7 linked regions of the Homo sapiens genome follow. The protein of the gene in region 7 interacts with the protein of the main gene of each other region in a biochemical or structural test. Each region holds a gene or a part of one and is shown on either strand. Other genes may lie near its edges. The genes, in order: MAGI2, ARHGEF11, PDLIM1, GRIP1, TJP2, IL16 and KCTD3.

What was found.
Region 1: the proteins of KCTD3 (region 7) and MAGI2 interact in a test that uses a peptide from one of them, tested with the Homo sapiens proteins (one large-scale study listed by IntAct).
Region 2: the proteins of KCTD3 (region 7) and ARHGEF11 interact in a test that uses a peptide from one of them, tested with the Homo sapiens proteins (one large-scale study listed by IntAct).
Region 3: the proteins of KCTD3 (region 7) and PDLIM1 interact in a test that uses a peptide from one of them, tested with the Homo sapiens proteins (one large-scale study listed by IntAct).
Region 4: the proteins of KCTD3 (region 7) and GRIP1 interact in a test that uses a peptide from one of them, tested with the Homo sapiens proteins (one large-scale study listed by IntAct).
Region 5: the proteins of KCTD3 (region 7) and TJP2 interact in a test that uses a peptide from one of them, tested with the Homo sapiens proteins (one large-scale study listed by IntAct).
Region 6: the proteins of KCTD3 (region 7) and IL16 interact in a test that uses a peptide from one of them, tested with the Homo sapiens proteins (one large-scale study listed by IntAct).

The regions. Positions count from the first base shown.
Region 1 is NC_000007.14:78,120,264-78,124,396, forward strand, and holds part of MAGI2 (membrane-associated guanylate kinase, WW and PDZ domain-containing protein 2), read right to left. Parts: intron 1-4,133. UniProt on the Homo sapiens protein: Seems to act as a scaffold molecule at synaptic junctions by assembling neurotransmitter receptors and cell adhesion proteins. Plays a role in nerve growth factor (NGF)-induced recruitment of RAPGEF2 to late endosomes and neurite outgrowth.
Region 2 is NC_000001.11:156,937,743-156,941,242, forward strand, and holds part of ARHGEF11 (rho guanine nucleotide exchange factor 11), read right to left. Parts: intron 3,332-3,500; exon of another isoform or gene 3,316-3,331; coding exon of another isoform or gene 3,313-3,315; intron 2,684-3,312; coding exon 2,465-2,683; intron 2,169-2,464; coding exon 1,806-2,168; intron 772-1,805; coding exon 676-771; intron 1-675. UniProt on the Homo sapiens protein: May play a role in the regulation of RhoA GTPase by guanine nucleotide-binding alpha-12 (GNA12) and alpha-13 (GNA13). Acts as guanine nucleotide exchange factor (GEF) for RhoA GTPase and may act as GTPase-activating protein (GAP) for GNA12 and GNA13.
Region 3 is NC_000010.11:95,280,604-95,284,736, forward strand, and holds part of PDLIM1 (PDZ and LIM domain protein 1), read right to left. Parts: intron 1-4,133. UniProt on the Homo sapiens protein: Cytoskeletal protein that may act as an adapter that brings other proteins (like kinases) to the cytoskeleton. Involved in assembly, disassembly and directioning of stress fibers in fibroblasts.
Region 4 is NC_000012.12:66,392,577-66,396,709, forward strand, and holds part of GRIP1 (glutamate receptor-interacting protein 1), read right to left. Parts: intron 1,777-4,133; coding exon 1,632-1,776; intron 241-1,631; coding exon 101-240; intron 1-100. UniProt on the Homo sapiens protein: May play a role as a localized scaffold for the assembly of a multiprotein signaling complex and as mediator of the trafficking of its binding partners at specific subcellular location in neurons.
Region 5 is NC_000009.12:69,180,508-69,184,640, reverse strand, and holds part of TJP2 (tight junction protein 2), read right to left. Parts: intron 1-4,133. UniProt on the Homo sapiens protein: Plays a role in tight junctions and adherens junctions. Acts as a positive regulator of RANKL-induced osteoclast differentiation, potentially via mediating downstream transcriptional activity.
Region 6 is NC_000015.10:81,293,999-81,298,131, forward strand, and holds part of IL16 (pro-interleukin-16), read left to right. Parts: intron 1-1,019; exon of another isoform or gene 1,020-1,333; coding exon of another isoform or gene 1,334-1,384; exon of another isoform or gene 1,385-1,450; coding exon of another isoform or gene 1,451-1,522; exon of another isoform or gene 1,523-2,929; coding exon 2,930-3,080; intron 3,081-4,133. UniProt on the Homo sapiens protein: Interleukin-16 stimulates a migratory response in CD4+ lymphocytes, monocytes, and eosinophils. Primes CD4+ T-cells for IL-2 and IL-15 responsiveness. Also induces T-lymphocyte expression of interleukin 2 receptor. Ligand for CD4.
Region 7 is NC_000001.11:215,597,916-215,602,048, reverse strand, and holds part of KCTD3 (BTB/POZ domain-containing protein KCTD3), read right to left. Parts: intron 183-4,133; coding exon 95-182; intron 1-94. UniProt on the Homo sapiens protein: Accessory subunit of potassium/sodium hyperpolarization-activated cyclic nucleotide-gated channel 3 (HCN3) up-regulating its cell-surface expression and current density without affecting its voltage dependence and kinetics.

The sequences.
Region 1 (4,133 bases), on a different chromosome or scaffold from region 7:
GTGGTGGCAGGTGCCTGTAGTCCCAGCTACTCAGGAGGCTGAGGCAGGAAAATGGTGTGAACCCAGGAGGCGGAGCTTGCAGTGAGCCGAGATTGTGCCACTGCACTCCAGCCCAGGCGACAGAGCAAGGCCCTGTCTCAAAACAAAAACAAAAACACTTGACAAGAAAATTCTAAAATTATATGGAAGGGCAAAAGCCCAAGAACATCCCAACACCACTGAAGAATTAAGATGTGTGTCTGGGGGAGAGAAAGTTTCCCCATACAAAACTCAACACTCATTAAAAGGTAGCTAAGTATGGCATTGATGCAGGGATAGACAAATAGACTAGTAGAACAGTATAAAGAATCCATATACAGACCACTGCATTTATAGAAATTTAATTTATTATAGAGCTGTCATTGCAGATTGGTGGGGGGTGGGACAAAGAAATACTCATTAAATAATGATGCTGTGGACCGGGCGCGGTGGCTCACGCCTGGAATCCCAGCACTTTGGGAGGCCGAGGCGGGCGGATCACGAGGTCAGGAGATCGAGACCATCCCGGCTAAAACGGTGAAACCCCGTCTCTACTAAAAATACAAAAAATTAGCCGGGCGTAGTGGCGGGCGCCTGTAGTCCCAGCTACTTGGGAGGCTGAGGCAGGAGAATGGCGTGAACCCGGGAGGCGGAGCTTGCAGTGAGCCGAGATCCCGCCACTGCACTCCAGCCTGGGCGACAGAGCGAGACTCCGTCTCAAAAAAAAAAAAAAAAAAAAATAATGATGCTGTGACATGTGGTTATCCATATGGAAAAATTGAGATTGAGGTTCTACCTTATATCATACAGAGAAATCAACTGTAGGTGATTAAATACTTAGATATAAAAAGTAAAACTATACAACTTTTAGAAGAAGATATAAGAGAAGACGTTTAAGACCATGTCTTGGAGAATGATTTCTCAAACAAGACACAGAAAGCAGAAACTATAAAAAAAAAAAAAAGGGTTAAGCCAATTACGCTAAAATTAAGACTTTCTCATTATCAAAGAGCATCATAAAGAAAGTGAAACTGCAAGCCATAAGCTGGCATAAGATATCTGTATCACATTAATTGATGAAAAAGATCACCAATAATATATAAGCATTTCTATAATCAACATGAAGAAATATTCAACAGAAAATGAGGAAAGACATGTACAGGCATTTTTTAGTTAAGAGAGAACATGAACGTCTAATAAATATAAGAAAAAATGATGAATATGAATTTGTAATCAAGAAATGCAAATCCAAATCTAAAATATATAATTTTCTACCTACCAGAATGAGAGTTTAAAAGTCTGACGTACAAATCTTGTGAGTGTGTGTAGTAAGAAAAACTTTTTTACATATGCTAATACAAGTATAACTTTGTAAAACCACCTTGGACAATACTTTTGTGTTACTTAGGTAAGTTAAATTTGTGCCCTCCAAGGCATCTAGTCTAGTCTAGAGAAAGTCTTGCATAGGTACAGCAGGAAAGATGTACAAAGATTGTATGAGTTACAACAAACTTGGAAACAACCAAAGTGTAAATTGACAGGGAAAATCTCAAATGTCCATAAAATGGAAAAATAGATAATTATTATAGGTTGTAGCATATTCACATAATGAAATAACTTATAGCAGTGAAAAATAAATGGACTATAGCTTCATGCACCAACCTTGGATGAATCTCATGAACATAACATATAGAAAGCAAACCACAGAGAAGAACATGTACAGTATGGTTCAGTTACATAAAGTTCACAAAGTGCACCAAGCTAAAGGTTATAGTTGAGAGATACACACATCTGTGGTAACAACAGAAGAAATGTCAAGTGCTTTATTTAGGAAGGTGGTTCCCTCTGAGGGCTGGAGAGTAGGAGGAGAATGAAATCATGGGAGCTTGGTAATGTTCTGTTTTTTAAGTGGGGCTATGGGTTCATGGGTCCTTGAATCATGGTTAGTATTTACACTTATTACATATGTTAGAAATATTCTTGTAAATCGTTTTATGTTTAATAAAAACAATATATAAACCAAGATGCTTTTGTATTGACTAGTTATATCTGGTCTATAGAAGGAAAGGTGACAAATTTAGAAGAAGCTAATTTCAGGGAATGTTGCTTTTCCTTTAAAAAAAAGATGGGCAAATGATATTTTTTTGTGCATTGATTGGTTGAACAAAATGTTTTAGTCATTCCAAAGCCCATTGCAGGCAGACTTTTGCATCATGTGAGTTTCAGAAAGTAGGTAAACCATCTTATAAATAAGCTTATGTGATGCTAAATAGGCATACACAAATGGTACCCAGCTGCAAGTGATGAAGTTATGAAATAATGTTCTTTTTCATCATAAAAATACATTTTATGGAAATGCGAACTATATTACACTTTTATGGAAACAGGAAAATATTTTACCATTTTAAGAGCAAACGATCTCCTTTCAGATTTCTCTTTTAACTTGACTCTCAGATTTTTATTTAAGCACTTAGAATTTCTATTCTTTCCCTCCAAATGTCTCCTGATTTCTTACATTCCCTGTTTTACTGAGCTTTGCCAATATTATTTTTTATGTTCATTATTTTTTGCCTGTGTTTTCTATTTAGTTTTGGCTTTTAATTAGGTTATATTCCTAGGAGCTTTGTATCAGAGATTTTATTCACTAGCTATGAAAATTTCATCCCTCCCAATTTTATTAGGCCATTTTACAAACGTAAGTCTTCTTTTTATAAACAGCTCCAGTAATATTTTCTAATAATTTATTATCCTTTTCCTTAAAATCTGAATGTCCATTGTGTTTCTCTTATGACACCAGCCTTCTTGACTGACTGAAGAAAAGCAAGCAGACGTGACAATGATATATCTCTTTTTATTATTCCCCTTATTTTCTGCATTCACAGATTGTGTTTTGTTTTATCTATTCAACTTTTAATACATCAGTATTAACTGATGTTGAAAAACCATCTAGTATAATAATTAAAGTCAAAACTTGCTACTCTCCACTGGTTTTTTGATAAAGTGAATATAGTAGCTCCCTCTCATACCTCTTGCATATATTCCAACATCTCCAGCGGATGCCTGAAATCACAGGCAGAACTAACCCTATATACACTGTTTTCCCTATATATATCTATGATAAAGTTTAATTTACAAATTAGACACAGCAAGGGATCAAAAACAATAAAAAAAGAACAATTATAACAAAATGCCAGCATCACTACTCTTGCACTTTGGGGCCATTACTAAGTAAAACAACGGTTACTTGAACACGGGCAGTGCGATACCATGATAGTCAATCTGATAATCGAGAGGGCTGCTGAGTAACCAGTGGGCAGGTAGCATCTACAGTGTGGATAAAGGGCTGTTTCACCTTCTGGGAAGGACAAAATTTCAGCACGATACTCACAACGCTGCACAATTTAAAATTTATAATTGTTTATTTCTGAAAAATTTTATGTAATATTTTTGGATTGCAGTTGACACAGGTATCTATAATAAAACCTCGGAAGGTAAAACCTCAGAGTTTCACCTGAAGAGCTTCCTAAAACATAGCCTGGTGACCCCACTCCTAGAGTTTCTGATTCAGCAGTTTTGGGTGGGGCTAGAGAATCTACATTTCTACCAAGTTTCCAGGTGATGCTGATGCCAGGAACCGTGCTGAGAACCATTGCTCTGGCTTAAATTCTGTAAGAAAGAGGAATCTTTTCCTGCAAGGGTATTTCTCTATTTAGGCTTCTTTGCCTTGGGAGTACTGTGTATATCCAGCAGCGAGTCATTTAGATCCCTTGTGAAAATACATGGCCACTGTTTGTAACCGACAGAGACCAGCCCTGTAGTCCACCGTGGGTCTCTATCTCTCACAGGGCTCTGGCCATTTTGCACATGGTCTTCCTACTGTGTTTCACCTGCACTGGAAAGATTAATTTTGTTTTACTTAACTGCTTGTGAGCTGGCCTTATAGCAGGTTAAGAAAGTGTCCTTCTGGCTTATAGGGAAGCTGTAGAGCCAGGAAACCATGTGGAGGCCCATCTTCAAATCAGGGCTAGACGGGGTAAGAGGAGGCTGGTGCTAGATCACGGGGAGGGCTGCCAGTCTCTGGTGTCAGCCCTGCCTGGGTTTAAATTCCAACTTGG
Region 2 (3,500 bases), about 59 Mb from region 7:
GGAGAAGTGGCAGAGCTGCAGTGTTTCATTTGGGGAAATTGGAGTGGCTCCCCCTCCTTGAGTAAACAGATTGTGAGCTGGTTTCAGGCTCTTCTGAAAGGAGCAGGCAGCAGCCCTCTTGCCCTGCCTGACTCCAGCTCTGGATGAACTACAGCCCTGCCCTGCCCCTCTTCCATCCATGCCACGATCCTCTGGAGGTCCCTTGACCCAACCAAGGGGTGTCAGAGAGAGCTGGAGGAAGGACGTGGAGGGTTCCTGACAGGCAGGAAGCACAGAGAACCACCGCGGAATCTGGGAGGCTCTTTCAGCCGATTTCCACAGTGACACTGGAGCGGCGGCTGAGGTGGGGAAGTGGCTGCTTGCATATCAGGTGAAGGACACTAGGTCCCCACCCCCAGGCCAGGCTTCCCTGCCCCTCCCACAATTGCACACAGGCATTTATCCCTGCCATTCTGAACAGGAGCCTGGACAGGTGGCTTCTTAAGGCTGGATGGACAGCCAGCCTTTAGAACCAGATCTCCCCGTCTTTAGAGCCAGATCTTCCTCCTCCCCATTCCAGGCAGCTGAGGGAGCTTGTGGGTGTGTGTGTGACCATGGGCAGGGGTCCGACTCTGCCCTCACAGGTTCCACACTCCAGTCTTGGCCTGTCTTTAGCTCCAAGGAGAAAGTTATTACCCGTAGCCTTTGTTCCGCCTTCCACTTCAGGTGGCCCAGGCTCTGACTGGCCACTCTCTGGTAGTGCAGGGACAACCTTGCTGCCTGCCACCTCAGCTGCACCGACACCACCACCACCAGGAAGAGGAGAGACCAAAACACAAGGAAAGGGAAGGGAGAGAGAACAGGAAGGAGAGAGGGCAGGAGGTGGGGACAGGGGGAGGAGAAAATGGGAAGAACAAGGTGAACACAAGATCATACACGATGACATCCCAGGCAGTGCAGAGAACTTTCCACCAATTCACCGAGAGACAGAGAAGGAAGGTCAGTTCCCAGAAACCCAGGAGACAGGTGGCCCTTGGGCAGATGGAATGAAAAATGCTGCTGGAAGGGAGGCAGAGTGGAATCCCAGGGGAGGGCAGGCCCACTAGCGTGGAACCCCATCCCATGTGTGCCCCAGGCTTTGTTCTACTTTTCTTGCCACCCTCTCAGACCAGCCCACTCTTCCCGGGGTGGGGACCTTCCTCCCTGGGCTCATCTATTGGCCTCCCTGTGAGCTTGTCTTGGCTTTTCTTGTCTCAAGGCCGTCCATGGTGTTTCCCAACCCGGGGTGCCCTCCCTGCCACCTTGTTCACTCCCCACATCCCTCACTCGCCAAATGTCTTCCCAGCTTTGTCCTCCACCCCTTCCAGTCCCAGCTGCCACCTCTACTGCCCTTGGAGCTGTTGCCTGGCGTGAGGGGCTGCATGCACCTGCCCTGTCTTTCCCGGCCTGAGGCTCCTGAGAAGAGTGGCTCTTTTCCCTGGGAACAGGAGATCAGTGAGGAGCACTAACAGAGACTGGTACTGGTAGTTGGTTTGTGCCAGGCAGAAAGAAATGTCCTTATGTGCTATAAAACAAAGTTCAGAGATGATTCAGAATTTTGTCTAAAGCCACACAGATATTAAGTGGCAGAGCTAAGCTCTGAATCTCGAATGTCCAACTCCAAAGCCTGCCTGATATCGGCGTTGTCTCCTTCTTCCAGGACCCAGCGTAGGTCTCTGCTCACACGGTACCCAGGGGGAGTATAGGGAAGGAAGCAGCTGTTCGGAAGACTTATCTCACCTAGCAAGGGTGCTTGTCTCCCCACTGGACACTCCCATTTATTTTACCTTTTCTCACAACTTTGTAACCTCCTGCTGCCTCTGTGCTTGAAGCATCTTCAGCCAGATTCCTGTCCAGTTCTGGAGACTCCCATATCCCAGAATTTCTGGTCCTTGGGGGTAGGTGTTCCAGAGAACAGAGACCCATGTCTTCCTGCTCTGGCCGTTCCCCCTCCAGCCCTGCAAGCTGGGTGTTGTCCCCTTCACCCCCAGGGGGTGCTTGCCCTGGGGAGCCTGGGTCCCAGGGGTGAGAGGTGACGCTGATGACAGAAGGTGTGGGTGTCAGGTCGTCCTCGGGCTCCTGGGCAGCCTGAGTTTCCATGGTGTGACCTGGCAGCAGGCTCCACAGGATCAGATGTCGCAGGTTCTCCACTGGAGGGGAAACAGGGTGATGTCTTCCCAGCATGGGACTGCACACCACGCCAGAAGGATCGTTGTACTGCCCCACTGACCCCAAGGTGGTGACCTCAGGCACAGGTGAAGCTGGAGGGCTCTGGCCAACTAGCTGGTGGGGGTTGGGTGGGGAATGACATCTGTCTCCGCATCCATCTCTCCTCAAGCACACCAGGAAGAGCCTTCGGGAAGGTGGAGGGTGCAGGCGCCTGCCAGTTCACACTGGGTGTGCGACTGGGGACCAGGGGCTGACGGCAGGGCCTTGAAGCACTCACCATCTTCCAGAGCGGAGTCAGCGAGCCCTTCCATGAACAGAGGGCCTGGGAAGGCCAAGTGGATGGGGTTCCTTGTCCTGATGCCCCTGTTCTCTCCATCCAGGGATGTGGAAGGGCAAGGCAGGACACCCAGTTCCTCTTCCTCTGCACTGCCCTCCTGCTCAGGGTCCTCTAGCAGGACCTGGTGCTTCCCTTGGACCCTCTGCTGGGACCCAGTGCCTGTTTCGGATGAGAGAAGATTGTAAGGCAGGGAAAGGGAGAGGGCACGTATGGGAGAGCCTATGGGCAGCTTTGGAGCCAAGGGGCTGGGAACACTGACTTATTCTACAGTTGTTTACTGAGAACTTCCCATGGCCAGCACTGTCCCAGGCTCTTGGCATACAACAGTAAGCAAAACAAAAAGATCCCTGCCTATGTTGAGCTTACATTCTAGGGGAGGGACATACAAAAATAAGACACTTCAGTCAATTATGTAGTTTGTTAGAAGGCAGTAACTTCCACCGGAAAGAAGAAAACAACAACAGGGCATGGGGCTAGGGGCTGGACAGTGCTGGCTACAGTATTAAACAGATTGGGCCAAGAGGACACTGGAATGAAGACGTGAAGGAGGTGTGGCGTTAGGAGGAAAAGCATTCTAAGCAGAAGGAAACAACAGGGACCCAGCCAGGAAACCCGAGATTTCTCCTGAAACCCAAGACCCCAGGTTATTTCTCACGCAAGCTCTCAATGAGAATGCTGTCCCCTCTACCAATCCCATCACAGTAACTGCATCTTAAGCCCTTTGAGCTCCCCAGCCCCGCCATGTTTTCCATTCTCATTGTTGCAGCATGTATCTCCCTCCCCAACAGTAACCCCTGGCTGGAGGATGCAGGGCCCGTGGATCCCGCCAGACTGCTCGTCTTCTTCCACAGCTGATGCCGTCACCCAGAGAGGCTGGGTGGGAATTTCTGGTCAGGTGAGCGAGTTCACCCTTTCTTAAGTCTGTTCAGTCTGCTCTCCTTCCTCTTCCAGACTCTTCCTCCCGCCCTGTTTCTTC
Region 3 (4,133 bases), on a different chromosome or scaffold from region 7:
GTTGCCTTTTTGACAGAGGTGGGGGTTTTAACCAAATATTTGTCAAATGGTTTAAATGGTTCTCAGGCAGAGGTTTTTGCTTTGTTTTATTTTTTTCTTTTTCTTGAGGGAAAAACCGTGTCTATTCAGAAGGCTTATTTGTGGACAGGACTACAGGTCAATTTCCTGACTCTTTATGGAACGTTGTTAACCTTGCCCCTTGGAGTTGGCTCTAAACCTCAGGCCAGAAATCAACCCCACTCACCAATACTCAGCCAACTGTGATATTTGCAAGGATGAGGCAATGGTTTTCAAACAGGTTGGTCATCAGATCCCATGGGGGCAGGGATTCAAAATATAGATAGAGCTCCACAACCCATCTCAGATCCACCAAAGACAGCCTATACAGTGAAACCCAAGAACCCATACCTTTTTAAAGCTTCCCAGAAAATGTTAATGCTCATCAGGTTTGGAAACACCAAGAGAGATGATGACTATGACTATCTTTTCCCCTTAAACTCTCTCCCTGAATGAAGTTAAAGTCATCAGGTAGACAAAAAGTAATTAGACCCTAAAATCTCAGCTCCTCCAGAAACACCTTCAAGGGCAGAACTTATACTCCTATAAAATACATACAAAGCCCTTGAAAGGAATATCCATTAGAATAGTATTCCTCTATCTCTTACCAAAACAGACTTAAAAAAAAAAAAATAGGCCAGGCAGGGATGGCTCATGCCTATAATCCCAGTACTTTGGGAGGCCACAGCAGGAAGACTGCTTAAGCCCAGGATCTTGAAACTAGTCCGGGCAACACAGTGGGACCCTGTCTGAACAAGAAATTAAAAATTAGCCAGGCATGTAGTCCCAGCTACTCAAGGAGACTGAGGTGGAAGGATCGCTTAAACTGGGAGGAAGTGGAGGCTGCAGTTAGCTATGATAGCACCACTACACTCCAGCTTGGGCAATAGAGCAGGATGCTGTCTCAAACAAAACACAAACAAAAAAATACAGCCCCTGTAATGTTGGTTAACACCCCTGAAAATGCTATGCAAATGAAGCATTGCATAAGTAATTTTGTTGTTTTTTTTAAATAGAGATGGGGTCTCACTGTGTTGGCCAAGGTGGTCTTGAACTCCTGGCCTCAAGCAATCCTCACACCTCGGCCTTCCAAAGTGCTAGTTTCACAGGCATGAGCCACTGCGTCCAACCAGTAGAAGTATAATAACTCCAAACAAGATATCTAAATAACTCGACGTGGGTCCTATTTTCCCTTGGCCAGAAAACTCACAGCTAAATGTAGTGTGCAATTACAGAACCAACTGATTTAAAGTTCCTGGCACTTCTCTCTCTTTCCTCTTCCATGTTCCAATTTTTTGTTAAATCTTATATGTGTTCTTGTGTTTTAAATATTGTAAATGTGTAACTAAGTGAAAGACAAGCCTAAGACAAGCCTGCAAGTAAGTGAAAGAGACAGCCTAAATAACGATAGTAATAATTATATACAACTGGGATAAAGAAATGTGAGATTCAAGTTCAATCGCAATGCTACATGCCTTTAAGCATAATCTCCGCTGATTTAACAGTTGTGTCAAGGTATTTGGGTACAAATTTAACAGATTCTAAACTGGGGATAAAGCAGGACCCAGCTCTGTAGGATGCCATTTACATGTGGAATTTGAACTCTCTTTAGTCAGAATCTTCTGACTCAGTATGTTTGTGAGCCGAGGCTGTGGCACAGACTTCACAGCCATATTATGGCTGCAGAAGCTGTATGCATTTACACAGGGTGACCTGAAAACATAACACTGTTTTAAAATGTTCTTGGTTAGTCTATAACCATTTTCTCAGGGAAATGAGGCAATAAAATAGGGTAGATGCTTGTAGATAAGTTGCACCTTAATCCAGCTTCACACTATGCATGGTGCAAAAAGAAGTTATTAGTGCTAAGGGGTGACAGTTCAAAGAGACGTGCTGCTCTCTCAGTCTGAAAGACCGACCACCATTTCTCAGACAGGAATATAATAAAACAGGTAGCCAAATAGAATACTCTGACTAAATTCTTAAGAAGTCATCGAGGCCAGGCGTGGTGGCTCATGCCGGTAATCCCAGCACTTTGGGAGGCCGAGATGGGCGGATCACTTGAAGTCAGGAGTTCAAGGCCAGCCTGTTCACCAACATGGTGAAACCCCATCTCTACTAAAAATACAAAAAATTAGCCAGGTGTGATGGCGCACGCTTGTAATCTCAGCTACTTGGGAGGCTGAGGTGGGAGGATCACTTGAACCCAGGAGATGGAGGTTGCAATGAGCCGAGATCATGCCACTGCACTCCAGCCCAGGCGACAGAGCGAGACTCCGTCAAGAAGTCGTCGAGTTCCTCAAAAGTTTCCAAACAAGCTCCTATGAACCCTACGTGCTTTTAAATAGCTCCAACAGCTACCACCCATAACCCAAAGCCTAAACACTCACTAAACCTTGAGGGAATTACTCTCTCTGACTCAGTATCTTCATTTATCAAATGAAATTTATAATGCATCAACCTCATCAGGTTGCTGGAAGGCTTAAATGAGACTGCATTTGTAAAGAGTTCAGAACAATGCCTGGCACGTAATAAACACTCAATATATAGTAGCTACCATTAATATTTTTAATATTTAATAGTTTAATAGTACCACTAGGCTCTCTCTATATATCATCTTAATCCTCACCACAACCTTTGAAGACAAGCGCTATTATTCCCACATTGCAAATGAGGACACTGAATTTTCAGGGGTTAACCTGTCCAAGAACATACAAGCTAGTAAATGGACAAGATAAGGTTTGAACTAGATCTAGCAGATATCAAAAATGTATTTTTCCCTTGACATTAAGATGTCTTTAATTCTTGATTTGTTACAGTAAAAATAAGGCAGAAAGCACAAAGCAATGAAGTCCCAATAGTTCACTGAGATATAGTAATTTGGTTTTAGAAATGCTACGTGTGCGGAAAAAGTCTGGAAAGGTTTGCAGCCAGCTGTTCACTGTGTTTACCTCTGTAAAGTAAGACTGGGGAAGCCTTTTACCTTATGCTTTCTGTAGGTTTATATTGTCCGATCTTTTAAACAATTACGCGGGCTTCTATGTAACCTTTACTGAAGGATGACATGTATACAGCACAAATGGTAACGATACAGCTGATTGAATTCTCACATACAGAGCACACCCAAGGAAACAGCATGGGATAAAGAAGAGGACATTACCTGAACTGCTAAACCTCCCTGTGCCCGCCTTCCGTCACTGACCTTCCGGCAAAGGTCTGCCATGATCCTGACTGCTAACACTGTAGATTAATTCTGTCTAATTTTATGTAACTGGAATCACACAGTATTTACTCTTCACTCTTAGGTATGGCCTTTTTCTCTGTGTGTGTGTGTGTGTGTGTGTGTGTGTGTGTGTCTCCTTCATGTCACTGTGCATAGTTGTAATTTCTTCACTCTTGTTGCTGTGATGTTTTATACCATATAATTACACCCACTACTTATCTATTCTATTGCTGTTAGACATGTGAATCGTTTCAAATTTGGGGCTATTATGAATAGTGTTGCTTGGAAAATTCTCAAACTTGTCCTTTAGCACTCATGTGGACCCAGTTTCTATTGACTATTTAACTAGGAGAACTGTTGGGTTATATGGTATGGGTATGCTCAGCTTCAGAAGCATAAGTATTTTTTATTATTTTTTTAAAGAAATGGGTGCAAACTATTTGCTGCATCAACCATATTTAATCTATCTGTATGCATTTTTTTTTTCTAGATGGAGTTTCGCTCTTGTTGCCCAGGCTGGAGTGCAGTGGCGTGATTTCAACTCACTGCAACCTCCGCCTCCCAAGTTAGAGCAATTCTCCTGCCTCAGCCTCTTGAGTAGCTGGAACTACAGGTGCCTGCCACTACGCCTGGCTAATTTTTGAATTTTTAGTAGAGACAGGGTTTCACCATGTTGGCCAGGCTGGCCTCAAACTCCTGACCTCAGGTGATTCACCCACCTTGGCCTCCCAAAGTGCTGGGATTACAGACATAAGCCACCAAGCCCAGCCTCTGTATGCATTTTCAATATCTTTATCTAAACTAGGTCCTATCTATGTTCTTATTGTCTTACTTGATACGAATGGTCGTGTCT
Region 4 (4,133 bases), on a different chromosome or scaffold from region 7:
AGATTTGTTTCCCTAGAATTACACACAGACACTAGCACATTCTTTCAAGGAAGAAAATGCACTGGAAATCCTTAATTGTGGCTTTCAATTCACTACTCACCATCTGTCTGTTTCTTAATTTTCAAGGTGACAGTCTCTCCTGCCATCTGTAACAAATGGATGGCTTCACTCAGAGGCTTCCCTTTCAAGCTGCTGCTATTGATGGCTAGGATTCGGTCTCCTATGTGGATTGCGCCAGTTCTGAAAAGCCAAATAGTAATAGGAGAGGTAGAAATAATCCCTGTATGGTACTGAATATAAATTCCCTGACATACCTTATACATTCATCATAATAAAGACTTGGTAAGGATCTCCAGAAGTCCCTTCTTGCTTTCTCCTGGGCAATGTTATAAGATAACTGCATCTGTTGTGGATTACTTTTTAGTTTCCAATAAAATTTTAAAAATTGTTTTAATTAGTTATTAAAATGAACTGTGTTTTTTAATTCCAAGAAAGCTGAGTCATTGGTTAAGCACCCTAAAAATCCCAAGAAAATGAACAATGTTGAATGACAAATGTAGTGGATAGCATGGAGCATCCTTTCTTTCTACAGATTTTTTTTTTTTTTTTTTTTTTTTTTTGAGACAGAGCCTCACTGTGTCACCCAGGCTGGAGTCCAGTGGCACGATCTTGGCTCACTGCAACCTCCGCATCCCGGGTTCAAGCAATTCTCCAGCCTCAGCCTCCCAAGTAGCTGGGATTACAGGCAAGCACCACCATCCCCAGCTAATTTTTCTATTTTTAGTAGAGATGAGGTTTCCCCATTGGCCAGGCTGGTCTTGAACTGACCTCGTGATCCATCTACCTCGGCCTCCCAAAGTTCTGGGATTACAGGTGTGAGCCACCGCACCTGGCCTGTATGAGCTAATTTCTAAGGTACACTGCAGCTCCAACATTTTGCAATGCTGTGTCTCTATTTTGCTAGCCACTGTTTTCAACTGTTAGCAGGAACAATGCATTTGTGTATTCCTGAGCTAGGTTACTGGAGGGCAGATTTGCTTATAGGGTTTGTTATATGTCCAACAACACATCTCAGAAAGAAATGCAGTTTAGCGGAGGGTGGGGAGTGGGTGTGTGTGTACATCATTGCCAAAGGAAAAAATGGACATTCCAGCTTTTAAGACATTATTAAAATGGGTTATACACTTTGTTTCCCATAATCCTTGAAGATGATGTCTGTATCATCCTTTTCTGAAAACACAGCAGCTAAGTGTGGCACCTGTCAGGTAACAGAGGCTCAGCAAGTGTTTGCTGAATGAAATTGGACAAGCTGTTCAACCTCCCTGAACTTTAGTTTCCTCCTCTCAAAATGGACACAATACAAATCCGCCTTCAGTCAATTGTGGTCAGCTTATACATTTCAGAGAGTAGTATCAATGCTAAGCCCAAGACGTCTTTTACTGCCTGTAAGATGCCCCTCAGAGTCAAGTCGGAACTCTGCCTGAGAGTTCTCAGGCTCTAAGATCAATCCTTTGTGCAGATTTTTAAAAGCCAACAGATAACCACAGAGAGAGGAGCATGTTTTTATGTGGTTGTGAGGAAGGAAGCCCGTCTCAGACACAGGTAATTATAACAGTTACTTCAAATTTTACCTTTCAGCTAATCCCCCTTTAGTGAGGCTTGAAATGATTATAGGATCAAACGGCTCTTCAGTTCCTGAAATTGTGATGCCAAGGGGCCCCCCGTAGCGTTTAAGCTCCACGGTGTAAATAATTGCTCCGGAACTTTCTTGCTCATCTGTAATAAATGCCAAGGAATCATAATTGATTTCTTTGGAAAAAGCAAAAGAGTAAGATGCATAGATTCATACATAAAAGAATTCAAAACATCCTCGTCAAAGTATCATGTCACAGAAAATAATTATTTTGGGAAGTAGCATTTCCTTAGTAGGATCTTACATTCAAATACAGGGATATAATCATTGTCAGTGCCAGGGGAGAGGAACACTGCCTAATGACTTATGTTTTAAATGTGTGAGATCCGCCCAGCTGGGGCTGCAGGACCTTTCAACTGTGTCCATGTCTAGGACAGTGCTTACCTAGCATTTAGTAAGTATGCAGTAAATATCTGTGAAATAAACATATGGCTGAGGAGGCATTATAATATGAGAGGAGAGAGTCACTCAGTAACAAAGAAGACAGACATTGGGTCACGCTGTTTCCGTTTTAAGCTTTACATGCATGCTAACTTTTGATATAGAAAAGTGGATTTTGCGAAGGGTTGGAACAAATAACATATATATGGTTAAGTGGAACTTAGATAAGTAAACTTGAAGACAACAGCAAGAAATCTAGAATCTCTTAGATATCATTCCACTGACTGTCTTCTAATGTGAGTCCTATCAGTGAATTACGGATATTAAAGTGGAGGTTTGAATGATCATCTCTCCTCTTTCAATGGAGTAACAGCTGTTGTAAGCTATGTTTCAACAGCATAGACCAGCCTGCCACACTGTCATAAACTAATTTTGGCTATTCAACATTATTATAGTTGAAGACACTTGTGAATGTGCTCTGCCTAAAGCACTGGCCAGAAAGATATCATGGGCCGCCTTCAACGTGATGGGTATTGTGATGGTGTCAGAGTTGCAAATAAGAAGTCTCAGAATTCAAAGGTTTTATTTGCTTCTGACATGCTTAAAGTTCTTGGGCACTTCTTGTTTTATTCCTTGGGCCTGGGAGCTGTGAATGGTTAAGGAACTGTTTCATTTCTGCAACTAAGGATAAAATGAAATGGTTCAGTGGCTACTTTAGCAAAATAGTCAGCTTTTACAGTCAGACTACATCCTAGTGAAGCATTAACATGGCCACATTTTTGCAGTGAGCAGCTGTTCGTTTACGATATGAAATCCTAAAATAAGGAGGAAAACCAAAGCTTGAGTTAACAATTCAATTATTTGTGTTTGCAGTGAAGAATTATGATGAATATAAAATGAAAGGTCTATCAAGTCATTTGGGAAGCAATGTGTCCTCTCTCGCCAGCACTTACTTCACTTCTGGCCATAGATTGGGAGTTTTGAATGCAGCCATTACCTCCACTTTCTGAGTGCTCTACTCAACGTATTTACTCCACACATTCAGAACTAAAGACCATCCACCACACACTGCAATGCTTAAGTCAACATTTTAGGGCACAAAATCTTCAACATTGGGCTCAAATTTACATTAGCAGCTGAGAAGCTCCCATATCAAGCCTAAAACAGCTCTGTTTGCTGGTTCACAAGTTTCTTCTGGGCTGATGCTGAAGTTGTGGCCAATAGGCTGGTGATGATCTGCTAAGGGCTCCAGAGAGAAACATCAAGATAGAGGGTAACCAAATAATCAGCAGAGGTCAAAAGTCTAAATTTTCCTACAGTACGATATTTTGTCACCTTTCAGAGCTGGCTTTGACCTAAATGAACAGAGTACTATTGGATAGATTACATGTACTTTGCAGCCCTCATCATCAACAATATCCTGGATGAAATTCTGAATGAGTCATTTGATTAGTAGTCCCTGGCACAGTTGAACATTAGTTACTGCTGGACACTCTGTGTGGGCCATTCAGTGGAGGTGTGTATGCCATAGGAAAGACCTTGACCCCTTATTGCTCTCTGCATAAGGCAAGCATGAGCACAAACTTGTCAATGGGTGCCAAGCATTTTGGGTTGGAGCATCTGCTCTTTATGGGTTTTGGGGAGAAGGACAGTTGCCCAGGACCTGGAGACCCAAGAACCAGTGGGAAGTGTCCATTGAAACTGCAGTCAAGATGAAAACAAACACTGGACTATGGAAGGGGAGTTGGGGGTAGTCCCATTCATTGGGAGAAGGGGGGCACCTGGTTCTACTCAGCTCATTCTGCAGAGTGAGTATTCCATGTTATTTTTTGACAATGTAACTTGAGACGCAAAGATGACAAAATAATACCAGAGATGAAGTGAATGGCTTTAGGATAGTCTGTTTCAGGCTGCCTTATTTGGAGACATTTTTTTATTGGCATCTGAGTCCTCACTGACTAGAAGGCAATTGTTAGGTCACCCAATGAGTTTAGATAGTGATGGAGATGCAAATCTGGGAAATGGTACCTCTTAACTAAGAAGGACACATTCCTGTGAT
Region 5 (4,133 bases), on a different chromosome or scaffold from region 7:
TGGCATCTATGCCATTTCTTCTTTGCTGGCACTGAGTTTCTGTTTCTACCAGAGATCCCCCATCTCTCTTGCCAACAGGGTTCTACCAGCGAGGTACACGTGTTTGAGATTTGGAAGGATGAAGGAAAGCAGAAGCCATTTGTTTTTCTTCTTCCTACAGACAGCAGCAGTAGCAGGCAAAAGTTGGATTCCTCAGACATGAGCTTTACAGCATGTCCAGATTCCCTGCCCTTTCACCAGCCTCAAGGCTGGAGATGCTGAGAAGGTGGAAGGTCAAGCAAGACCTTCTGAGTCTTCTCTGGGTGGCAGCAGCTTTCTAACTTTTTTTGCGGCAAATCAGAAAGCCAGCGGTGGGCTTCCATTTTTTGCGCATCTCGCCTTTTCTTTGTCCTGAAGGCAACTAATACTCTGTATTGAATCCCCTTCTCCTTGAAATAGCTAGAATGACATGTCTTCTTGACTGAACCATGACTGATAGGGTAGGCCTATTTTACAACTGAGAAAACTGAACATGAGAAAAAGGTAAATTGCTCAAAGTCAAGCAAGCAAGTGGCAGGACAAAAGAATTCACACCCAGGTTTATTTGACTTCAGAGGTAAAGAATCAAAGTTAAACATCTGTAACCTGGCTGGGCGTGGTGGCTCGCATTTATAATCCCAGCATTTTGGGAGGCCAAGGTGGGCAGACTGCTTGAACTCAGGAGTTGAAGAGAAACCTGTCTCTACTAAAAATACAAAAATTAGCTAGGTGTAGTGGCGCATGCCTGTAATCCCAGCTACTTGGGAGGCTGAAGCAGGAGAATCACTTGAACCTGGGAGGCACAGGTCGCAATGAGCTGAGATCATGCCACTGCACTCCAGCCTGGGTGACAGAGTGAGACTGTCTCAAAAAATATTTTTTTTAATCTAAAATAAGTTTTTTAAAAAATCCCTAACCTATGGTCCTAGGAATTCACACAAGAGAAATGGGTGTACATGTCCACAAGGCAATGTGTAGGTGCTTTTCATGGCAGCTTTATTCATAATAGCAAAAACACTGAAAATAACCCAAATACCTATCAACAGAAGAGATAAGCCAAATGTGACAGATGCATATAAATGGAATACGACTCAGTGGCAAAAAAGAACTACTGAATCTCACGCAACAAATACGGATGAATTTCACAGAGGTTAGGTTGAGTGAAAGATGACAGACATAAAATGTTGATTTTATTTATATATGGGTCCTCTCCCAAGTTCAAGCAAAAGTGTTCCACGGTGAGAGAAGTCAGAAGAGAAGTTCTCTTTTAGGTAGGTGTGGTAATCATTGGAAAAGTGGCAAGAGAGAACCTTCCAGAGTGATGGAAAATTCTAGTTTTTAATCTAGGTGGTAATCATGCAGGTGAATACATTCATGTAAAAATTCACCTACCTCTGGAACTAGAGAGTGATGGTGTTTACAAAATACTGTGAGTGTATTAAATGCCATTGAATTTTATACTTTAAAATGGTTAAAATGGTACACTTAATGTTATGTGTACTTTACCACAATAAATAAAATTCCCTGGCCAGGCACAATGGCTCACGCCTGTAATTCCAGCACTTTGGGAGGCTGAGGCAGGTGGATCACCCGAGATCAGGAGTTCGAGATCAGCCTGACCAACATGAAGAAACCTTGTCTCTACTAAAAAAAAAAAAAATACAAAATTAGCCGGGCATGGTGGTGCGCACCTGTAGTCCCAACTACTCGGGAGGCTGAGGCCGGAGAATTGCTTGAACCTGGAGGGCACAGGTTGTGGTGAGCCGAGATGGCACCACTGCACTTCAGCCTGGGCAACAAGAGTGAAACTCCATCTCAAAAAAAAAAAAAAAAAGAAATTCATCAAGCTCTCTACTTGAGATTTGTGTGTGTGTATATGTATATACATACATATAAATTCAACGAAATTGATAACACAGAAAAAGCTTCATTATCAATAAGCAGACTTGTAACAGAGGTCGTGCCACTGCTTCTACAGGAAAATTTTCTTCATGGAAACATACCAGGCAAATTTTTTTAGCTCTAAGTCTGGCAGATTGAGTCTACCTTTCCTGCCTCTTCCAGATCCTTCACTGCCCAAAGTCATCTGCCAAACTGTGCACTTAAATAGTATAAGTAGACTAAATATTTCTCTCAGACCTTTGATTAAAATTCAATTTAGGCTCAAAACGAACTTGGGGCCTCTTCCTTTCAATGTGTTGCAAACTTGGGGCTTCTTCATTTCAATGTGTTGCCACTTGCCCTTGTTTTTAGGCTTTAACAATAACACCAGAAGGAAACGCACAAATGTTTCCAGCTCCATTTCTGGAAAATTTCAGTGAGTGTCTAAGATGCCACAATGTCTCTCCTCTCTTAAAACTCACCCAGACACTAAACAGACCAGCCCAAGGAAGGCAAAGTGCTCTGCCTGAGGTGACGTTGAAAAACTCCAACATGCCTGAAGTTATGCTGAAACTCAGATGACAGCAGTGATTTTACACCAGTGAACAATGTGGTTTTTTGCAGCAGTGACCAGTAGGCTCATCTTCAACACATTTGTGAAGAACAAATCAGAAAGGGCTCCCAGCTGCAGGCCTGCCCCTCCTTCCAAGCGTATGTCACAGGCAATGAGGCCCGGGGAGAAGTCCATGGGGGTGGAGAGGAAGAGGAAGAGGAAGAAGGATTCTCAAGAAGCTCTGCAAGATGGTTGCAGTTGCTGGCTTAAGCTGCAAAGTAAGGAAGAGAATCCAGCACACGTGGTGCTGGTACATAATTTAAGCTGCAACTGAATAATAGATCTTTCCATCACTTTATGAGCAAAACAACTACCAGCCACTCTTGGACTCTGTCTTTTTAAAAAATGCTTTTCAGAGATAATCCACTGGATCTCTAAAAAAAAAAGAAAGCAAGCAAGCAAACACAAACGTAGTTTAAGGAGCACAAAAACATTTTAAGATGAGAAGAACCAATGGAAATAATTTAGAATGTTCTCTAGGCTTTATACTCAAACTTCAAAACCTTCAGAATCTTAAGCACAAAAGACTTTGAGATGATCAACTGTAACTACTCATTTTCTGATAAAGAAACTGAGAACTAGGCCAGGCGAGGTGGCTCATGCCTATAATCCCAGCACTTCGGGAGGCCAAGGCAGGCGGATCACGAGCTCAGGAGTTCGAGACCAGCCTGGCCAACATGGTGAAGCCCCGTCTCTACCAAAGATACAAAAAATTAGCAGGGTGTGGTGGCGTGTGCCTGTAATCCCAGCTACTTGGGAGGCTGAGGCAGGAGAATCGCTTGAACCTAGGAGGCAGACGTTGCAGTGAGCTGAGATCGGGCCATTGCACTCCAGCCTCAGCGATAGGGCTAGACTCCACCTCAAAAAAAAAAAAAAAAAAAAAAAAAAGAAATTGCAAACTAGAGTCACAAGACAGCAAAAGCCACCCAGCTAATCAGTGGTGCAGCTAATGCTGCTTCCATGCCATTACAAAAATGGTCTAGATGAAATTCTATAATTTTTTTTGGACAAAATTCTCTGGATGAAATTCGCAATTCTAACAAACGATCATCTACTCACTATATAAATGTCAGGAATCCACTGTCCTAATTTCTCAATTAGTCTCTTATTCCTACTAGCTTATACAACAAGCCTGCCCCAAATCAAGTCAGTCCAACGTTTAGTGGATGTGTTGGTGCTCTGTTAGCTTCTGGGGTTACCAAGATGACTCAGACCAGGGAGGGGCTCAGGGCTGATGGGAAGTGATAAGGGCTAGAATAAATACTAGCATGTGCATCCTCACCAATCACAGGCAAGAACACAATTGATTCAGCCAGACTGCAGAAGGGTAACGCAGAAACCAGGCTGCTAAAACTGAGCTCACCAGGAAGTTCCTTCCAAATGATTCATTCCTTTCAAAAACAGAAATGTTTAGTTTTGCTAATTAATTCCCTCAAATAATTTCATCTGCTTTGCCATATATACCTAGGAACAGTCTTCCAAGGACTGAGAGCAGAATGATTGTCTCTCGAAGCCTACATTACTTACTCCTATTCCCATTGTAGAGCTCCACCCAGGGTCTCAGGTGTGCTCAGCTTTAGTAGGCATCAAAGAAACACAACCTAGAACTCGGAACACTTCC
Region 6 (4,133 bases), on a different chromosome or scaffold from region 7:
GAAGCTGTCTCCCCCATCACGGAATGGCCCTGCAGGGGCCCTGGCCCTTCCCTTAAGCACACCGTGGGCAGGTGGGAGGGGGCCTCTGGAAATCCCCTAAAACAATCTACAGTGAGGGTTGGCAAGCTTCAGGAGGGGTAGCGGTGGAGACGGGATGTTGAGTAGGAGGGGTGAAAGTGAAGGAGGGAGGAGGAAGCCAGGTTACTAAAAAGGAAGTGCAGTTTTGCAGAGCGCTGGCAGGATGTGGCTGGTTAGCAACACATGATGGAGTTATCAGATGGATCTGTTCTCCCACCCCCTCTTTTAAGCCCATATTTCATTTTCCCTTGGGCCTGAGACCTATGAGTCCAGAAGGGCAAATCAGGAGCAGCCAGCTGAGAAGCCAGTCATTTTGCCTTCCTCCTGGAGGCCCAGAAAAGGAGTGCAGTTGCCACAGCAGGTCTGTCCCAGTGATGCCCTTGGCAGAGCCACATAGGGTCAGGGAATATTCCCGAGTAAGGCGTCTGGAGAAGGAACTGGGGTGTCCTCAGGGAAGCCCAGGCAAGGAACTTCCCACAGGTCATCTTTCATGCCCTGTGTGCCTCAGCAGAATACAGGGCTCCCTCCTGTACCTGCCCCCAACAGCACCGTCTCCTGGAGACAAGGCCGTTCTGCAGCTGCCCTCCTCTGTTTGCTCTGGTCTGTCCCACGTGGCCAGCAGATCCTTCTCCCACAAACATTTCCATAAAAGCAATCAGCACGACATAATTTTATTGGGCACTGGAGAGGCGGGGGTCACAGAGAAAGGATCATAGCACGCAATAGAAAACAGGAAGCAATTTGCTTGAGGTCACTCTCAAAATTTCCTTGACCATTCCTGGGGATTTCTCACTGGATGTTTTCTTCCGTGGCCACAGTGTCCACTGTCTCACTCTCCCACTTTTCCCTCCCTGCAGTCTTTTCTCTACAGGGTCCCAAGACTGTTGTCAAGCTGCTATGGATGACCCCCAAGTCTTTCCCATCTACTCTAATTCAAGGGGACTTAACTCTCACAACCAATATGAACTTTGGGATATTTTCTTCAACAAAAAACTAACATCCCTCTTATAAAAAATCAGCCTAAACTCTCCCCCGTGCTTTAAAAAACTTGCTTAAAAAAACACAACAGGATTTTCGAAGAATCCTTTCTTAGAAAACAAACAAAAAAACCAAACAAAAACGTACTTTCTCCCCACTATGCTGAATCTGCTCTCTCCCTCTTTCCTTCTTTCTCTTCTCCCTCCCTCATCCACCAAGCATGGTTCCAGGAAACACTAGTAAGAGAAAAATTTGTGTAAAATCAAATTTATTTCAGGGGCTAATTCTGAAGTCTCCCATGAAGAGGATGCAATATTGGATGTGTTGATGAAAAGACAAAACACATTTGTGCTGTTCTAAGTTGTAAAGCTGCATTGACTGCAGTTGGTATCACATGTGGCTGCCTGTAAAAGAGCTAACAATTCATGAATGTCAACAGATGTCAACTTACAGAGCTCCCAACCAGGTGAAATTAAATTTCATCCCCATGTAATTTCTCTTGTGGACAAGAGACTTAGAGATCATCAGGCCAATATTTGGAGCTTCTAATGCCATGACTCAGCCTTACTTTTTTTAAGGGCTAGTTCGAGAAGCTCAATGATTCCTTTGAAATTGGTTGATCTCTCAGTATTTCATAATGCTCTCCTAAAGCTCAGTTCTACAGTAGGGAACTCGAGCTGAGGCAATGCTCTGTGAATACACTTCTAACTTTTGTAGACCTTTGCTTCCTCCAAAATGTTTATTGTCAATGTAGATCTTAAATTTCAGGTCATGGATATTTGCCATTGCTTTTTTAGTCCCAAAGGATGCATTTGTTCCTTCCTCTTTCCTTCCTCTCTGGAAGGAAGCCTGCAGCCATGTCAAATGGCCCATCATTACACAAATCTGGAATGAACCGGACGTGGAGGCCACCGCAGTATAGCAAAGCATTTCTCTTGCAGACAATCAAATACAGGTGGCATCATTTTGATGATGTCTGCTTTCTCAATCTTTTTTTCCAGATGGGTATTATGTTTGGTTGGGCTATGTCTCTGGAACACTATTTTTCTGCCTCTCTGCCTGCAAAATTCTTACTCTGTTTATGAAGCAGACAGAAAGTACTTCTCTAGGAAGCCTTCTCCACCTCTGGGATGGAACTGGTCTCTCTGTTTCCTCTGGGCCCTGACAGTACCTTAAGCACACTGTGTGATAATCCAAACTCTTCAAGTATTGCATAGCTATTCAGAGCCTGGTTCATCTTGTCCCTAGGCTGTTTTGGGAGGACCCCAAGGCTGCATCCAGGCTCAGTGGTGGAAACAATTCTGCAACAGATTGAGGATGTCACCCTAGGTGCCACAGAGGGGAGCAATGGCACAGGTGCTGAGTATCTGTCATCTTTTGCAGAACACTTACTAAATATTTGAAGAGTGCTTAACAAGTGACAGCAATTGACAAGCATTTTCCTGAGTGCTCTAACCTTAGGGAACACTAGCTGCCAGGTTTTTTTGCTGCCTTGTTTCTACGCTGCCCTATACCCTCCCGGGGTGGGTAGTTCACCAGATGCAGTTGTAACTGAAGCAATGCCAGTCCCTCCACACTCAAAGCCTTTTGTTCCTATCATAAAGAGTCAGGGTCTTCAAGTATGTCAACAGTATGAGCCCATGACCTGGATACCAGGTTGCTGGAAGTCAAGGGATGCTCTGCATGTCTAGGAGGTGCTGGCTCTGCCACGTCAGCACCAAGGAGAAAAGAATCCTCTTTACATGGCTGCTGATGAACTTCTCACTGAAAGCAGCTCAATATCCGTTTTTCCGTCCCAATCAAAGCGTGTCTCGCCTTCTCACAGCTTGAGGCTACCGTTTTGACATGGTCTCGCTTCCTGTTTACACCACAGGAAGCGAGAGAGCTGCTGCCACTGCTGCTACCACAGGAAGACACAGCAGGGAGAAGCCCTAGTGCCTCTGCCGGCTGCCCAGGACCTGGTATCGGCCCACAGACCAAGTCCTCCACAGAGGGCGAGCCAGGGTGGAGAAGAGCCAGCCCAGGTAAGCTTTCATTGAGATCTTCCAAAAGGAAGGGTCTTTTGAAAAAAGGTGCAGGGATAAGATAAGAGCACAAATTGGCCTGAGGATCAGAGTGCTCTGCATTGACATCACCACTGGACCTGGCTGATCAACAGTCAAGGGTTCCAGGTGCTGGGCAGCAGCACCGTGGAGGTGCTGTCCAGGGTGGGGAGCCTCCTGGGTGGACGGGTGATGCTGTGGGGGTGGCAGCAGGAATGCAGGCCATTCTGGATAATTGGGAGGATGGAGCCCTTGGAAGAGGTCCAAAGACACACCCACCCAGCCATCCTGGGCAGCTACCTCTAGGGTGCCAACATTCCAGTTGCAACAGTCCTGCTGCATTCAGGATTTCTGAGTCAGAGAATGCAACGCCAGAAAAGTATAAATAGCATCTACCAGTGGTCACCTCCTCCATGAGGTGGATAGCAAGGGTGTGTCCACATGGTACACCTGACAATGCTAAGACATGACTTGAATATTTATTTGCTTGCTAGAGAGAGCATAGGACTTGAAGTCAGGGAATCCTGGATCTGTCTGTCATTAGTATGATTCTGAGCAACCTACTTTGCCTTTCTGAGCCCAGATTCACTCATCAGCAATGTGTGGAAGAGCACGTAGACCCCAAGCATATGATGCATTCAGCAAGCACACATTGAATGCTGGCTTCGTGAGGCCCTGTGCTAGATGCTGGGGGGAGAGAGAGAAAGGGATGAGACCAGGTAGTCAGGTCCTGCCTCCAAGGAGCAACTAGTAGTGGCAGGAAATAAACATATAGACTATAAAACATATGACTGTTTGAGTAACACTACAGAAAAGCTCATGAAAGACTTTTGGAGGGCTAAGGGACATTTTGGAAAGATCTAGCACATCTCACCCAGAGCAGAGGCCCTGTGGGTGGAGGCTCCTCTCCCTTAGTCACCCTAATTGAGGAACATTCTAGCAAAAGCAAACGCCTCAGTGTTTAACTGACAGGAGGTTGTCACTCCAATCTGCAAAGGGCTTGCCTGTGGAACCTCTGCCTCCTGATTCTCACAA
Region 7 (4,133 bases):
TAGCATATCTATTTAAAACTGAAAGGTAATGTTTTCTTGTTCTCATTTAAAAAATTACATTAAGCAGGAGCATTTTAAGTGACTGAACACTTACCTATGTAATATATTGATCCATTGTTACATCCAAGCAGAAGGAATGATCCAGCAGTGTCATAACTAGTTATAGGAACAACATCTTGAACCTGATGTAGTGAGAGTATTATCAGATGTTAGATAGTAATTATAATTTCTATTTTCTGGTCAATTTCCTCAAAACTTTGATTCTTCTGGTAAAGAGGCAACCAATATCCAATTTTAGTAGGGCTTAGGAAATAAACTTTCTTTAGGTGCACGCGTGCACACACATATACACAAACATGCTACAGAGGAGAACCATCAATATACTTCCTTCAAAATATTTTTTTTAAATTGTATTTCCCACAGCAGTACTTTCCTTTCTCAATTTCGATTGGTTGTCTCCTCTTTTTTTGCATGTGATCACTAGATTGCAGCCCACTAGAACTGGAAGGCCGAGTCTGACCAGGTCCCTCTCTTTTCCCTTTCTCATACAAGAGATTAAATGACCTGTCCAAAGTTACACAGTAAGCAAGTGACAGAATCAGAACTAGTAAACAAAGCAACTGATTTCCAGAAAGTACTTGCTCCCTTGATAATTTATTATTTCTCTGAAAAGGTGGTATTCTCTATTTTTCATTCTCCTTGCTAAAGGTTACTTCTTTTCTAGGAAATGGCAAGGGAAACAAAGTCTCATTTGTATTTATTTTTTTAAAGTATAGGAATAAAAAAATTAGTTTTTCCAGGAAAATCAATCTAGTTTACAAATTAATACCTTCCCATATTTGTGCTAAAAGAAACCTGCCGAGGCAGGCAGATCACCAGAGGTCAGGAATTCGAAATCAGCCTAGCTAACACGGTGAAACCCTGTCTCTACTAAATATACAAAATTAGCTGGGCGTAGTGGCGCATGCCAGTAATCCCGGCTGCTCGGGAGGCTGAGGCAGGAGAATTGCTCGAACCTGGGAGGCAGAGGTTGCGGTGAGCGGGGATTGTGCCACTGCACTCCAGCCTGGGCAACAGAGTGAGACTTGGTATCCAAAAAAAAAAAAAAATGTGTTTGCTAGGATAGTTGCAATACTATTTTACTAGAGTGATATTCTACTATTCATCAAAATGAATCTTCCCTGTTTACAGCCAGGCCAGACAAGCCTGTTAAGCTTCTTCACAGATGACATTTGAATTACTAAGACACCAAGTTTTGCATACAAGTCTAAAAGATTTCCAATAATTTAAAAGTTAAAAATGTTAAGGGACTTTTACTTTTCATATACTATACCTGGCTTTCATTTGAAAAGTTAAAATCTAAACATTATCTGCTTAACATTTAAGTACTTTTTATGTACCACATATTATCCAAGAAAACAAACAATGAACTAGAGATAAGGGATGTGAGGTATCCCCTTGCTCTCTAGGAGCTGGTAACTTGTGAGAAAGAAAAATAACAGACAATTATAGTGTGACAGGCACTAAAATAGACTACAATACAATCACAGGAGAGAGGGGAAGAACTGCCATCTCAGTGCTGGTGGGTGAAGAGCAAAGATCAAGGAAGGTTCACAGAGGAAGTGAAGCTTGAAGACTGAAGTCAACTATGAGTTAGGTAGGGCAAGGGGAAAGGGAATATCTGAAGAGCAAGTAAAAAAAGCACAGAATCTAGGTTCATTCTAATTAAAAACAGAAATAACTAAAACTTGGAAATAATCATTCCTCTAAGCTCTTCCTGTATATAATCCTAATTTCTGTACCCTCTCAATGTCATGCAGTTATGAGTTACACAAGAAATATCTCAAAGAACTCAATCATCATGCCCTATCCTGAGGTCAGGCTTTTAATTAAAGCCAATGCCAAAACATTTTATACCAGGAAAACATTGAGTACTTTTCAGTGATATCAGTAAAGATGTCTAAAGGATGGAGGGGAGACTGCTTTACACACCACTAACCAATTTTCTTACTCAAGTTAGCTAAATCATTTTAGTTCTAGCACTAAAGGAAAGGGCTTCAACTCCTGCCCCAGATTCTTCATGGCAGGAAAATGGGGACAGATAAGGCCATGAGATTCTTCTCCCTTTGGATACATTCTTTTTTTTTTTTTTTTTTCAATGAAAGAGCAGCAGGAGCCTAGCGCTTCCCAAGGCACAAAGGCAAACATTTTTACCATTTATTCTCTGGGAGGATGGGCTCTAGGATTAAAGCCTTGCTACTTCTCCTTCTGTAACCTTTAATCATGATCTGCCTTTCTTTCCATGTCTACCCCTCCATACGGGAAAACAGAGAAAGCAGAGGATAAGCAGAGTTACAGTGAGTTACAACTGCTGAGTTCTTCTCTCCCAGCACAAGCAAGGAAGCAGCCACTGTGTGGCCTCCTCTTCTTCGTCCTAACAACTTCATGGCAAGAATCCAAGAAACCATACTGATTAGTATGCATGGTTCAGTCATGTGGTCACAAATATAAAATGGAAGTGGATTTTTCTCTTATAAGGTAGCACACAGTGATTACCACTAATTTCTACATGTAAATTTAAATTTACAGTTTTAAAATACCAGTCTATCTTCCCATATAAGGCCCCTAGAATCTTTTAACTACAATCTCTATACCTGTAAACTTATCATTATTTTTTACAGGATGTTTTAACCTTCGTCCATTACTTTTTAAATAATCACTTATCTAAATTTACCATCGTATTTACCAACATCTTTCCTAATCACTGCTTAATGCATTCCATTTCTTCCCCTTCAAATATAACGTTCTTCTCAAAAGGCATTTTTCTTTAGTAGTCCTTTCAAAAATTCTCTCTGAAAAAAAACCCTTCTCATTCAGGTTTGAATGATAGTTTTGCTGTGTATGAAAACCTAGGCTGAAAGTTACTTTCTCTACCATTTGGAGAATGCCCGTTGTCGTCTTCTGGTGTCTACTACTGGTGATGAGAAATCTGATCAAAGTCTAATGACAGGCAAACTGTCACTATTCTATGAATACTTTTTATCATAATTTATCTTTTATTATAGCACATTTAAACATTCAGGCTGCCAAGACTTGGTACATTTCTTTAATCAATAAATTCATGCCCATTTTCATTTCTCCAAAATGTTAGCAGTTGTTATCTTTTTCAATATGGCTCCTCTAGTCTGTTCCTATCTGAAATGCTTTCTCACTTTTTCCTTCTTTTTCATATTTTCTATCTCACTCTTGGCTCAACTGGAAATGATTTTCTCAGACGTGTCTGTCAATTTACTAATTTTCTTTTAGCTGCGCTTCTATTTAACCATTAAATAAAATTAAAAATTTTTTTTCAATGACCTTTTAATTTTCAGTATTTTATTTCCCTCCATTTTCTGATTTGTCCTATTCCTTCAATACAGCAGCTTTCTAATTGTTCCATTATTTCCAATTTGGGGATTGCAAATTTTTTCTTGTTTAATGACTTTTCGTTATTTGTTTCCATGTGAAGTTTATAAGTTTTGGGAGGTTATTTTAGCAGAAATTACTCTTTCTACAGGATTCTTGTGTGCTCTCTTCTGAGAAAGTGTTCTAACTGGTGTCATATCTGTATCTAGAAATGTCAATAGTCCTAGATCAGTTTCTCAAATTGGAGTTCTCATAGAACAAAGGCAAGTCTTTGTGCTTCAATTCACTCCTAATTTGAATATGTTGGTTTCAATTTCTAATGGTTTCCTCTTGCATCTCCTTTTCCCATTCCAAGACACCAAACACACATCAAACTTTCTTGTTCCAAGATTACTGGGCAAACTTTTCCCAGTCTTCTCAGGGACTGAGAAACTTAAAACTTCAGATTTTTGTAGGAGGCTCAATTTCTACTGTCCCATGAAATCATGCCTCCTACTTTTGCTAAAATCCCAGATCCCAGAGCCTTTACTTTGGTATGTGGTATGAAAGTGTGTATAAACAAACTAGTCAATTAACTTAATACTTAGTATAAACAATATACATTGTTTCAATATTTGTATCTAGTATTTCTATATATAAATTTAGAAAGTCTAAATCTAAGTAAGTATCTCATATTTCTTACTATAAATTCTGTAAGTAAGCAAACAGACCACAGTTAAGACAGCAGT